3 separate regions of the Homo sapiens genome follow, and all the other regions are reported to be linked to region 1. The links are microRNA targets in miRTarBase. Many come from high-throughput screens and were not tested one by one. Region 1 holds a microRNA gene; each other region holds the end of a gene's coding sequence.
The links. Region 1 holds the annotated microRNA hsa-miR-1288-5p (GCAGAUCAGGACUGUAACUCACC, at 1,150-1,172, shown strand). A microRNA usually pairs through its seed, bases 2 to 8, with sites in the 3' UTR of a target mRNA and lowers its output. Matches are read on the target gene's strand: a 7mer-m8 pairs with bases 2 to 8, a 7mer-A1 pairs with bases 2 to 7 and ends in A, and an 8mer does both.

Region 2: the mRNA of COLGALT1 is a reported target of hsa-miR-1288-5p. Seed matches in the 3' UTR shown: 7mer-m8 at 930-936.
Region 3: miRTarBase lists PLA2G4D as a target of hsa-miR-1288-5p. Seed matches in the 3' UTR shown: 7mer-m8 at 2,556-2,562 and 8mer at 1,870-1,877.

What each region holds. Positions count from the first base shown.
Region 1 is chr17:16,280,879-16,284,131 of GRCh38, forward strand. MIR1288 (microRNA 1288) reads left to right here and starts at 1,136; the gene lies at 1,136-1,210. All of the region lies in intron 2 of PIGL (phosphatidylinositol glycan anchor biosynthesis class L), which reads left to right.
Region 2 is chr19:17,581,217-17,584,469 of GRCh38, forward strand. COLGALT1 (collagen beta(1-O)galactosyltransferase 1) reads left to right here. Exons shown (of 12, transcript NM_024656.4): 12 at 1-1,941. The coding sequence ends at 228. Among named protein-coding and RNA genes, the nearest start is that of COLGALT1, 27 kb to the left of the region's middle.
Region 3 is chr15:42,066,107-42,069,359 of GRCh38, forward strand. It overlaps PLA2G4D (phospholipase A2 group IVD), which reads right to left. Exons shown (of 20, transcript NM_178034.4): 20 at 903-2,835. The coding sequence ends at 2,609. Among named protein-coding and RNA genes, the nearest start is that of PLA2G4D, 27 kb to the right of the region's middle.

The DNA of each region.
Region 1 (3,253 bases):
AGTTTTAGTAGAGATGGGGTTTCACTATCTTGGCCAGGCTGGTCTTGAACTCCTGACCTTGTGATCCACCCACCTTGGCCTCCCAAGGTGCTGGGATTACAGGCATGAGCCACCATGCCTGGCTCACTAGGTGTTTTTAAAAGGAAAAAAAATCTCACTTACTTTGAGAAGACTCTTGTGCTTTCACATGTATAAATATAAGCACTAAAATCACATGAACATACATTCATTTGAAGTTTTCAAGGAAATAATCATGAAATGTTTCAGATTATTATTTAAGTAAAAAATTTTTCTAGGAATGCATGGACCCCTGAGAATTTAGCCACAGACTCTCAGGGATTTGTGGACCTCAATTGGAAAACATTGCTGTAGAACAGTAGTTCATTTTGAACTCATTTTTGCAAGCTAAATTTTGACATGTTTTAGATGCTAATTCTAGGAATGTTCTCCCTTTTCTAAGAAAAGTCCAAGCATTTTTTACCTGCTCTAAAAGAATATCAACGGCTTTTATGTTTCAGAGACTGGATGCAAGAGATTGTTTAACAAATCCCATCCCATCCCTGAGAATGTGTCTAGGCATTTGCTCTTTGCAAAGCCAGATGCAACATTCATAATAACTAAGGCTATCTTCTGGCCAGCACTGCAAGTGTATCTTTTGTCTACATTCTTAAGTAACCACATCAAATAGCATCAACCCACTTGGAAATAATTTTGAAGTGATTTGGATCTCTCTTGTATATTTTCCCTATAAATCCCTAGCCTGGTAGGCGTGTATATTTTCTGCTGCAATATTTAATGCTTAGTTCCTTGCCTACATCTAAGAAATATTAATTTTAGAAGGAATTGGATACTGATATTGGCAAATTTTTATGAGACTGGCTAAAGGAGAAAGAAGAAGGGGACCTGTGATAGAATCTTCCATGACAAGGAGGAAATACTGGCCTCAGTCTCCTGCAGAAGCAGGAGCTCTGGTACACAGGTGGGGTGCCCACTGGTACAGCTCCCATCTGACATGAAGCAGGCAAGCCAAAGGGGAGCAAGAGCAATGCAACCTGTAAGACCCATCCTCAGACATTCTGCTATTGCCCCCAGACAATGGAAGGGGGGCGACAGCTGTCCATGGGGGCACTGCTAAGAGGGTGTTGATCAGCAGATCAGGACTGTAACTCACCATAGTGGTGGACTGCCCTGATCTGGAGACCACTGCCTTTCGAGAATAATTCACCCTACAGAAGCTATCTGAGCATCACCAGACAGGGTCTTCCTGGGAATTAGCACATATCCCAAATTTCCTTCAGCTTTGCCTGCCCACAGTCCCCTGAAAGCCCTCCCTTTTTCTGGGTGTGAGAGGAATGGCTGGGCATCCCTTGGCTTATCCTCCTTCTTGCCCACCATAGCCAGCATCTCAGAGTGAACATGCACGAGGGAGGTAGAAAGACTCCATATCCTTGTTCTTTACAACTTAGAAAAGCCTAAGTTATAGGAGAGAGATAGCACAATGGAATGCTGAATTAGAGGTAAATAATTGGTCTGTTTTTTTTTCACCAGTCTAGTTACTACTATTATGTAAAATATCTAATTTTACATACCCTAAACACCCATACCCAAACACCTTGACAAAGGAATCATTTTACCTCCCAAACATAGTCAGTGTTGATTTCACAAAATATCCCTAGAATTACTCTTTCTGAGGCTAACAGGACTACTTAGATGGTTCCTAAAGTCCCTTCTAACTCCTGCATTCTCTGGTTAATGAATCAGCATTAGTCATGTGGAAGGAAGGTATCCTCCTCAAACTCTTTTTAAGAATGATCTCAAGGAATCCAGAGTGCTCATTAAGTTGGTGAAAGAGTCAGTGCAGAATGCAGCTCATACATATATCCTGATGTGATGTTGGCACCTCTCAAGAAGCTGGGAAAGATGTCCAGGCTGGTCATAGGACTCAGCCCCTATTATGGGTCCAGCAGCCAGTAATAGTAAGCAATGTCTACTTCAAAAGATATCTCTGGCCAGGTGCAGTGGCTCAATCCCAGCACTTTGGGAAGCTGAAGCGGGAGCATCACTTGAGCCCAGGAGTACAAGACCAGCCTGGGCAACATGGCGAGACCCCATGTCTACCAAAAAAGAATTTTTTTTTTTTTTTAGACAGATTCTCACTCTGTTGCCCAGGTTGGAGTGCAATGGCATGATCTTGGCTCACTGCAACTTCTGCCTCCTGGGTTTAAGCGATTCTCCTGCCTCAGCCTCCCGAGTAGCTGGGATTACAGTCACACATCACCATGCCCAGCTAATTTTTGTATTTTTAGTAGAGGTGGGATTTCACCATGTTGGCCAGGATGGTGTCTAACTTCTGACCTCAGGTGATCTGCCAGTCTCAGCCTCCCAAAGTGCTGGGATTACAGGCGTGAGCCACTGTGCCTGGCCAAAACAATTGTTTTAATTAGCTGGCCGTGGTTGTGCATGCCTGTAGTCCCAGCTACTCAAGAGGCTGAGGAAGGAGGATTGCCTGATCCTAGGAGGTTGAGGCTGCAGTGAGCTGTGTTTGCACCACTGCACTCCAGCCTGGATGACAGAGCAAGACCCTATTTCAAAAAAAAAAAGATATTTCTGAGGAGCCATGCTCATTCAAGACTCACTGCTCTTAGAAGAGGTGTTAATCTGGCCAGGTGCCGTGGCTCACACCTGTAATCTGAGCACTTTGGGAGGGTGAGGTGGGAGGATCATCTGAGACCTGGAGTTCAAGGTCAGCCTAAGCAACAGACTGAGACCCTGTCTCTTAAAAAAAATAAGAGAGAGATGTTAATCTATATTAAACAATTGAATAGTGTGAAGATTTTGTAAAACTTTTTAAATCACCGATTATACAAAAGCTCTTATTGAATTATTAAGGAGTTAGCAATTACTATTAATGCTGTTGAATATGAGTAAGAACCCACTTAACTTCAATCAGAATCCATCGATCAAGCTTAAAGCCTTATCTCATAGTTCCCTTCCTGGTCTGTCAGCATTGCCTCATAGAGAGGGAAATACATCCCGCATCTGCCTCATCATGAACTTGGGTGGCCACCAGGATATTGCTCATGAAAGCTGCTTTTCTTTCTTTTTTTTTGTTTTGAGACGGAGTTTCACTCTTGTTGCCCAGGTTGGAGTGCAACGGTGCGATCTCGGCTCACTGCAACCTCCGCTTCCCAGGTTCAAGCGATTCTCCTGCCTCAGCCTCCTGAGTAGCCGGGATTACAGGCGCCCGCCACCA
Region 2 (3,253 bases), not on the chromosome of region 1:
GCCTTCTCTGTGGAGCCGCTGCTCATCTACCCCACACACTACACAGGAGACGATGGCTATGTGAGTGACACCGAGACCTCAGTCGTATGGAACAATGAGCACGTCAAGACCGACTGGGACCGCGCCAAGTCCCAGAAGATGCGGGAGCAGCAGGCACTGAGCCGTGAGGCCAAGAACTCGGACGTGCTCCAGTCCCCACTGGACAGTGCTGCCCGGGATGAACTCTGAGGGGTAGCAGCCAGAAAGCCAAAGCAGCCATCGGTGGCCCAGGCTCCACGTGCTTACTGAGGACATCAGGTCCACCTCTGGACCCCTTGGCAGGCCACAGAGGGCTCTCGTGTGGGGTGGTGTCCAGCCAGCTCTTGCTAAGCAATCACGTGCACACAGGCAGCATTAATGGAGTGCCTACTGCATGCCAGCAACAGGGCTTGGCCCTGGGGAATTGGGAGGAACCAAGCCCTCTTCATCTGTTCATGTGCCCAGCATTTATTAAGCACCTGCTGTATGCAAGGTTCCCATGTTACGGCAGTGAATGAGGCATAATTGTTCCCTCCATCAGCGATTGATTCAGTCATCAAGCAGTTACTGATCAGATTAAGAATCAGGCACTAGTGATACACATTCATTTTTAAAATTCATTCAAGGATTTATTGAGTGCCTACTGTGTGTTGGGTGCCATTCCAGGCTCTGGGATTTTTTTTTTTTTTTTTTTAAGAGTAGAGTCTGTCTCTGTCACCCAGGCTGGAGTGCAGTGGTGTGACGGCTCACTGCAGCCTGCGCCTCCCAGCGTCCAGCAATTCTTGTTTCTCGGCCTCCCAAGTAGCTGGGACTATAGGTGCGTGCCATCACATCTGGCTAGTTTTTGTATTTTTAGTAGAGACGGGGTTTCACCATGTTGGCCAGGCTGGTCTCGAACTCCTGACCTCAAGTGATCTGCCCGCCTTGGCCACCCAAAGTGCTAGGGTTACAGGCATGAGCCACTGTGCCCAGCCCAGGCTCTGGGAATATTGAGATAAATAAGATGCTTCTATCCATTTATTCAAGCACATATTGGTCACCTACTGTGTGCCTGGCACTCATGTCACAAAGATAAGTTCCTGATTCGGTACACTTACTGAGCACCTGCTGTGTGCAGGGAGCTGAGCTATGGGATGGGAATGGGAGTAAACAAGGTACTTTTTACTTTTTTCTTTTTTTCCTCACTGCTAGACGGTGTGGGAACTTCTCACTCATTGGCTTCTTTCCCACACACCTGAAGAGCACTGACTGTGTGCCGGGCACTAGTGATACAAAAGAGTGTGACAGTTGTTCAGTCTGCATTTTCGATCATGGGCTACATGCCGAGTGCTGGGGCACAGAGATGAACAAGATCGGTTCCTTCACTTCTTCATGCCACAAGTGTTTATTGAGCACCTGTGTGCCAGGCCTCACAGACTCCCAGTTGGGTTGAAGAATGGTTGACTGAGTTTGATTCTTCCTGTACCCTCGGTCGTCTGAGCTGTGTGCAGACAACATCCCCCCACCACCCAAGAGGGAGGGTAGCTCTTCCGCCACCAGGGGCAAGCACAGGTCCTGGTGGCCCCACGCCACATGTTAGCCCCCCTGGAGGGGGCGCCAGTTGGAGACGGGGGCTGGGTGTCCCTGGCCCACTCCCGGTCCCCTGTGCTTTACCTCCTTGCCCTTGTGTCTCAGGTGTGGTCCCTGCCTGCTTGATGAAGTTGCTCTGTTCAAGCCTTTGGTGGGATCATGTGTTTGGGGGCTTTTAGGGGACCCAGCTGCACTGGGGCACTGCCCGTGGCCTGGGTAGGACATTTCCCAGCAAGGGCTGGAGGAGTTGCCGTGCCTTCAGCCTGAATCGAATGTCAGAACCAGCCAGCGGTGCTTCACCCTCTTGGGGATAACTTGCTTAGTTTTTTAATAAATGTTCCTGGTTGGTTTTCACAGCAGTTTGTGGGATTTTGCTCGGCACCAAAACACTGCCCACGTTCCCCACCCCTGGATGGCCGACAAGATTTGGGAGGAAACCAGGGCAGGTGCAGTAGGGAAGCTGCCCAGTGGGGCCTGGCATGGTGGCTCATGCCTGTAATCCCGGTGCTTTGGGAGGCTAAGGTGGGCGGATCACTTGAGGTCAGGAATTCAAGACCAGCCTGGCCAACATGGTGAAACCCCCTCTCTATTAAAAGTACAAAAATTAGCCTAGTGTAGTGGGGCGGGGTGGCGGGGGGGGGGTACCTGTAATCCTCGCTACTTGGGAGGCTGAGGCAGGAGAATCGCTTGAACCTGGGAGGTGGAGGTTGCAGTGACCCAAGATTGAGCCACTGCCCTCCAGCCTGGGCGGCAGAGCAAGACACAATCAAACCAAAAAAAAAAAAAAAAAGCTGGCCAGTGGAGCTACTGTGGGGTGAGGGTGTGGTAAGAGCCCTGTGTCCCCTCATGCCATAAAACTTCCCCCAAACAGGCGGGGGACCGACAGCTCTGTCTTGAGTCAACTTCAGGATCCTTCCACATGACTTCGAATAAAGAGGGGCTGTCGTGCTTTGAGTCCCCCTAAAACAGACCTCAACATGAGGATTAGGGCTGGGCATGGTGGTTCACGCCTGTAATCCCAGCACTTTGGGAGGCCAAGGTGGGTGGATCACCTGAGGTCAGGAGTTCGAGACCAGCCTGATCAATAAGATGAAATCCCGTCTCTACTAAAAATGCAAAAAGCAGCCAGGCATGGTGGTGTGTGACAGTAGTCCCAGCTACTTGGGAGGCTGAGGCAGGAGAATCGCTTGAACGCAGGAGGTGGAGGTTGCAGTGAGCTGAAATCTTGCCACTGCACTCCAGCCTGGGCAACAGAATGAGACTCCATCTCAAAAAAAAAAAAGGATTAGGCTGGGTGAGGTGGCTCACTCCTATAATCCCAATGCTTTGGGAGGTTGAGGAGGTGAGAGGATTGCTTGAGGTCAGGAGCTCAAGACCAGCTTGGGCAACAGAGTGAGACCCTCGTCTCTACAAAAAAAATTGAGAAATTAGTTGGGCATGGTAGGGCACACCTGTAATCTGGCTACTCAGGAGGCTGAAGCAGGAGTATCTCTTGAGTCTAGGAGGTTGAGGCTGCAGTGAACCATGATCACACCACTGCACTCCAGCCTGGGCAACAGAGCAAGACCCTGTTTCTATAAAACAAAACCAGAAAACTTCCCTGAAATAGCCCAGGGACAGGTGGCCAACTTCATTCTATCTTGGATCAACCACAGGATCGTCGCAG
Region 3 (3,253 bases), not on the chromosome of region 1:
CACTCCTGTCAGACAGGACATTCCAGGACCCAGAGGTCACCTCCCACTAGCCACGGGCAGAGACTGGACCTCTCTTTGGTGAGGTTAATTCTAAACTACGAATAGGGCACGTTACAAAGTCAGTGCCCAAAGACACAGAGAGGTGTGGCTGTCAGAAGCTCCAGTCCTGGATTTGCCACCTTTGAGGTTAGCAAGTTACTTAATCCCTGTGGACGCCTACCAGCCAGAGGCCAGCAGGAACAGCCCAGTAGCCAAACAAATTTGAGTTAACTGGTACCCATTGCACTAAGAAGACTGTATACTAGGAGGCAGTGCAGTCTCAGTAAGTGTGTGTGTGTGTGTGTGTGTGTGTGTGTGTGGTGGGGGGGTGCTTATTGAAGGATTTGGGCGTTTGTAGGGTGACATTACGAAATGTTCAAGGAAGCAAAGTGTTGCTGTGGATTGGGTGCTGTCAGGGAGTGGGGCGAGTCTATAATTGAGGATCTTCACAATTTTTATCCAGGAGGTGGAAGAACGGGAGGGACGAAAAGCCTGGTAGAGAAACCGCAGTCTCTCACGTGAAACAGGAGAGGGCACTGTTTGGCCATTTTTATGGTTTCACAGTGCCCTCATTTTTTGTCCATGCTCAGGCATATTTATGGAGTGGCCTTGATTCTGTCCTGCTGCGTCACGGGGGCGCGGTGACCCTGCCTGACACAGGTGCTCTGTGAAGTTTGTGTGCATCAGGCGGACACCAGGGACCTGCAGACGAGTCACAGGATGCTTTGTTCTGTTCCTTTCCCAACCCTGAGTTTCATCACTGATAACAAGGAGACGGTAATTCTACCTAACACATTAGGCAAATGTGAGAATTAAGGGGAATAATGTAAAATGCCCAGCATAAAATAAAACACAACAGCTAGTCAATTCCCATATCACTGTTAAAAAAATAAGAGTCCATGATAAAGGGAAAAAGTGAAGAATCAAAATAAAGCCAAATGCAGAAGAGGCACAGGGAAGGAAGCTGAGAGAGGACATCAGATGAGGGCAGTCCCTGAGCCAAGGTCTGTCCCGAAGCTCTCACTACAACCCCCACCTGGGGCCAGGTGTGTGTGTGTGTGTATGTGTACACGCACCCTTGCATGAGGGAGGTAAGAAATGTGCTAGCAGCTGGCCGTGGTGGCTCACACCAGTAATCCCAGCACTTTGGGAGGCTGAGGCAGGAGGATTGCTTGAGTTCAGGAGTTCAAGACCAGCCTGGGCAACATGGTGAGACCTCATCTCTACAAAAAACCATTTTTTTAATTTAGCCAAGTATGGTGTTACATGCCTGTAGTCCCAGCTACTTGGGAGGCTGAAGTGGAAGGATCACTTGAGCCCAGGAAGTTGAGGATGCAGTGAGCCAGATTGCACCATTGAACTTGGCCTGGGTGACAGAGTGTGATGAGATTCTGTCTCAAAAAAAAAAAAAAAGAAAGAAAAAGAAAAAGAAATGTGCCAGCAATAAACAAAAAGGTTTATATACCATAATCAAATGGAAACTGCCCCAGGAATGCAAAGTTGGTTTAATATCCAAAAACCAATTAATGCAATAGAGTACATTAATAAAATACACGACAAAACCACATGATCATGCCCATAGACACAGAAAAATCACTTGACAAAACCTAACACCGTTTCATCATAAAACACTCAATAAACTAGAAATAAAAGAGAACTTTCTCAACCTGATAAGGATGTCCAAGAAAAACCCACAGCTAAAATCACACTAAATGGTGAGAGACTTATGCTTTCTTGTCAGAGTCAGGAACAAGACAAGATGTCTGCTCTTGAAACGTGTGTTCATCATTGTACTGCTCAGGGCAATTGGGAAAAATAAATAAAAGGCATTCAGATCAGACAGGAAGAAGTAAAACCATCTCTATTTGGAGATGGCATGATCTGTCTACAGAAAATTCTAAGAAATCCGCAAAAGTATTAGAGCCGGTAAACAACTTCAGCAAGATTGCGGAATACAAGATCAACATTTAAAAATCCATTGTATTTCTATAAAATAGCAATGAATAATCTAAATGAAATTAAGAAAGTAACTCCACTTATCAAAAAGAATAAAATATTTAGGAATAAATTTAAACAAGTACAAGACTTGGATACGGAAAGCAGGAGGACAAAGAGGAGAAGGACAAGGAGAGGAGGAGGTGGAGGAGCAGGAAGAAGATGAGGAGGCAATGTGTTCAGGATGTCTTGTGATTCCCGAGGCCTGAAGCCACCTGTCAGGTCAGGCATCCCCTGTCCTTCCTGTCCCTACTCCTGATCTGCTGCCTCCGGCTTGCACTTCAAATCTATCCTGCTCAGGCATGGAAGTAATTGTGGTGTGAAAGTCTGTCTGGTTGGACCAGCTGTTCTACACACTGGCCTGGCGAAGTTATTTTCAACTCATCTCAAGCCAGCCATGAACGTAAGAGAGAAGTCTGTGTGTGCAGTTCCCTCTGGGCAGTGAGACCAGCTACAGAGGCCACCCAGGCCTGGGAGAGCCCAGAACTCCAACCAGGAAGGCCTGTGGCTGAGCCCAGCTACAGATCAGGTTATGCCCGCAGGCCCTGGAGGGTCCTGCAGCCTCTGAGCAACCTCAGGTCTGTGCCCTTGGAGGCCTCGCCTCTAGAGTCCGGTGCTTCAGCGCGGTCCTCAGGGCCTGCAGGATGGCACCCTGGCTGGTCTGCACGTTGTAGTCACTGAGCCGCAGCAGGCGCTCGAAGTCTTCCTCCTTGTAGGTCATGTTGGACAGGGTGTAGGGGCAGGTGGCCCCGGTGAGATCCACTTGGCCACCCTGGAGCTCTGCGGGGCTGCGCTGGACACCTGCCCAGGGGTAGGAGGGGTGTCAGGAGCAGGACGCCGGGGCTTCTACAGCCTGGCAGCGGCGCACAGGGAGGGCTGCCCCCGCTGGAGGGGCCCCTGCTTTCCTCCCAGCTCTCTGTGTCCTTTGCCCAGGAATGTAAATGTGGGTGGCAGGGTGCTCTTTGGATGGGTACTATTTGGTGGTAGAAAATACAATTTCATATTTCATTGCCTTGTGGCGTGACACCCCTTAGGCTATTCAGGCAGCCCCACATGTCTCTACATCGCTTCGAGGCAAGGTGGAAACAGCCAGAAGGGGGAAGTCAACTGGGTTTGCGAATGGATTCTTAGAACTCACGGTGGAAGCAAGGGGGCAGCGAGAACTTGCTGAGAGATGAAGGTTCTTTAGAATTCTCAGATGTGGGCTGAGCATGTTCAG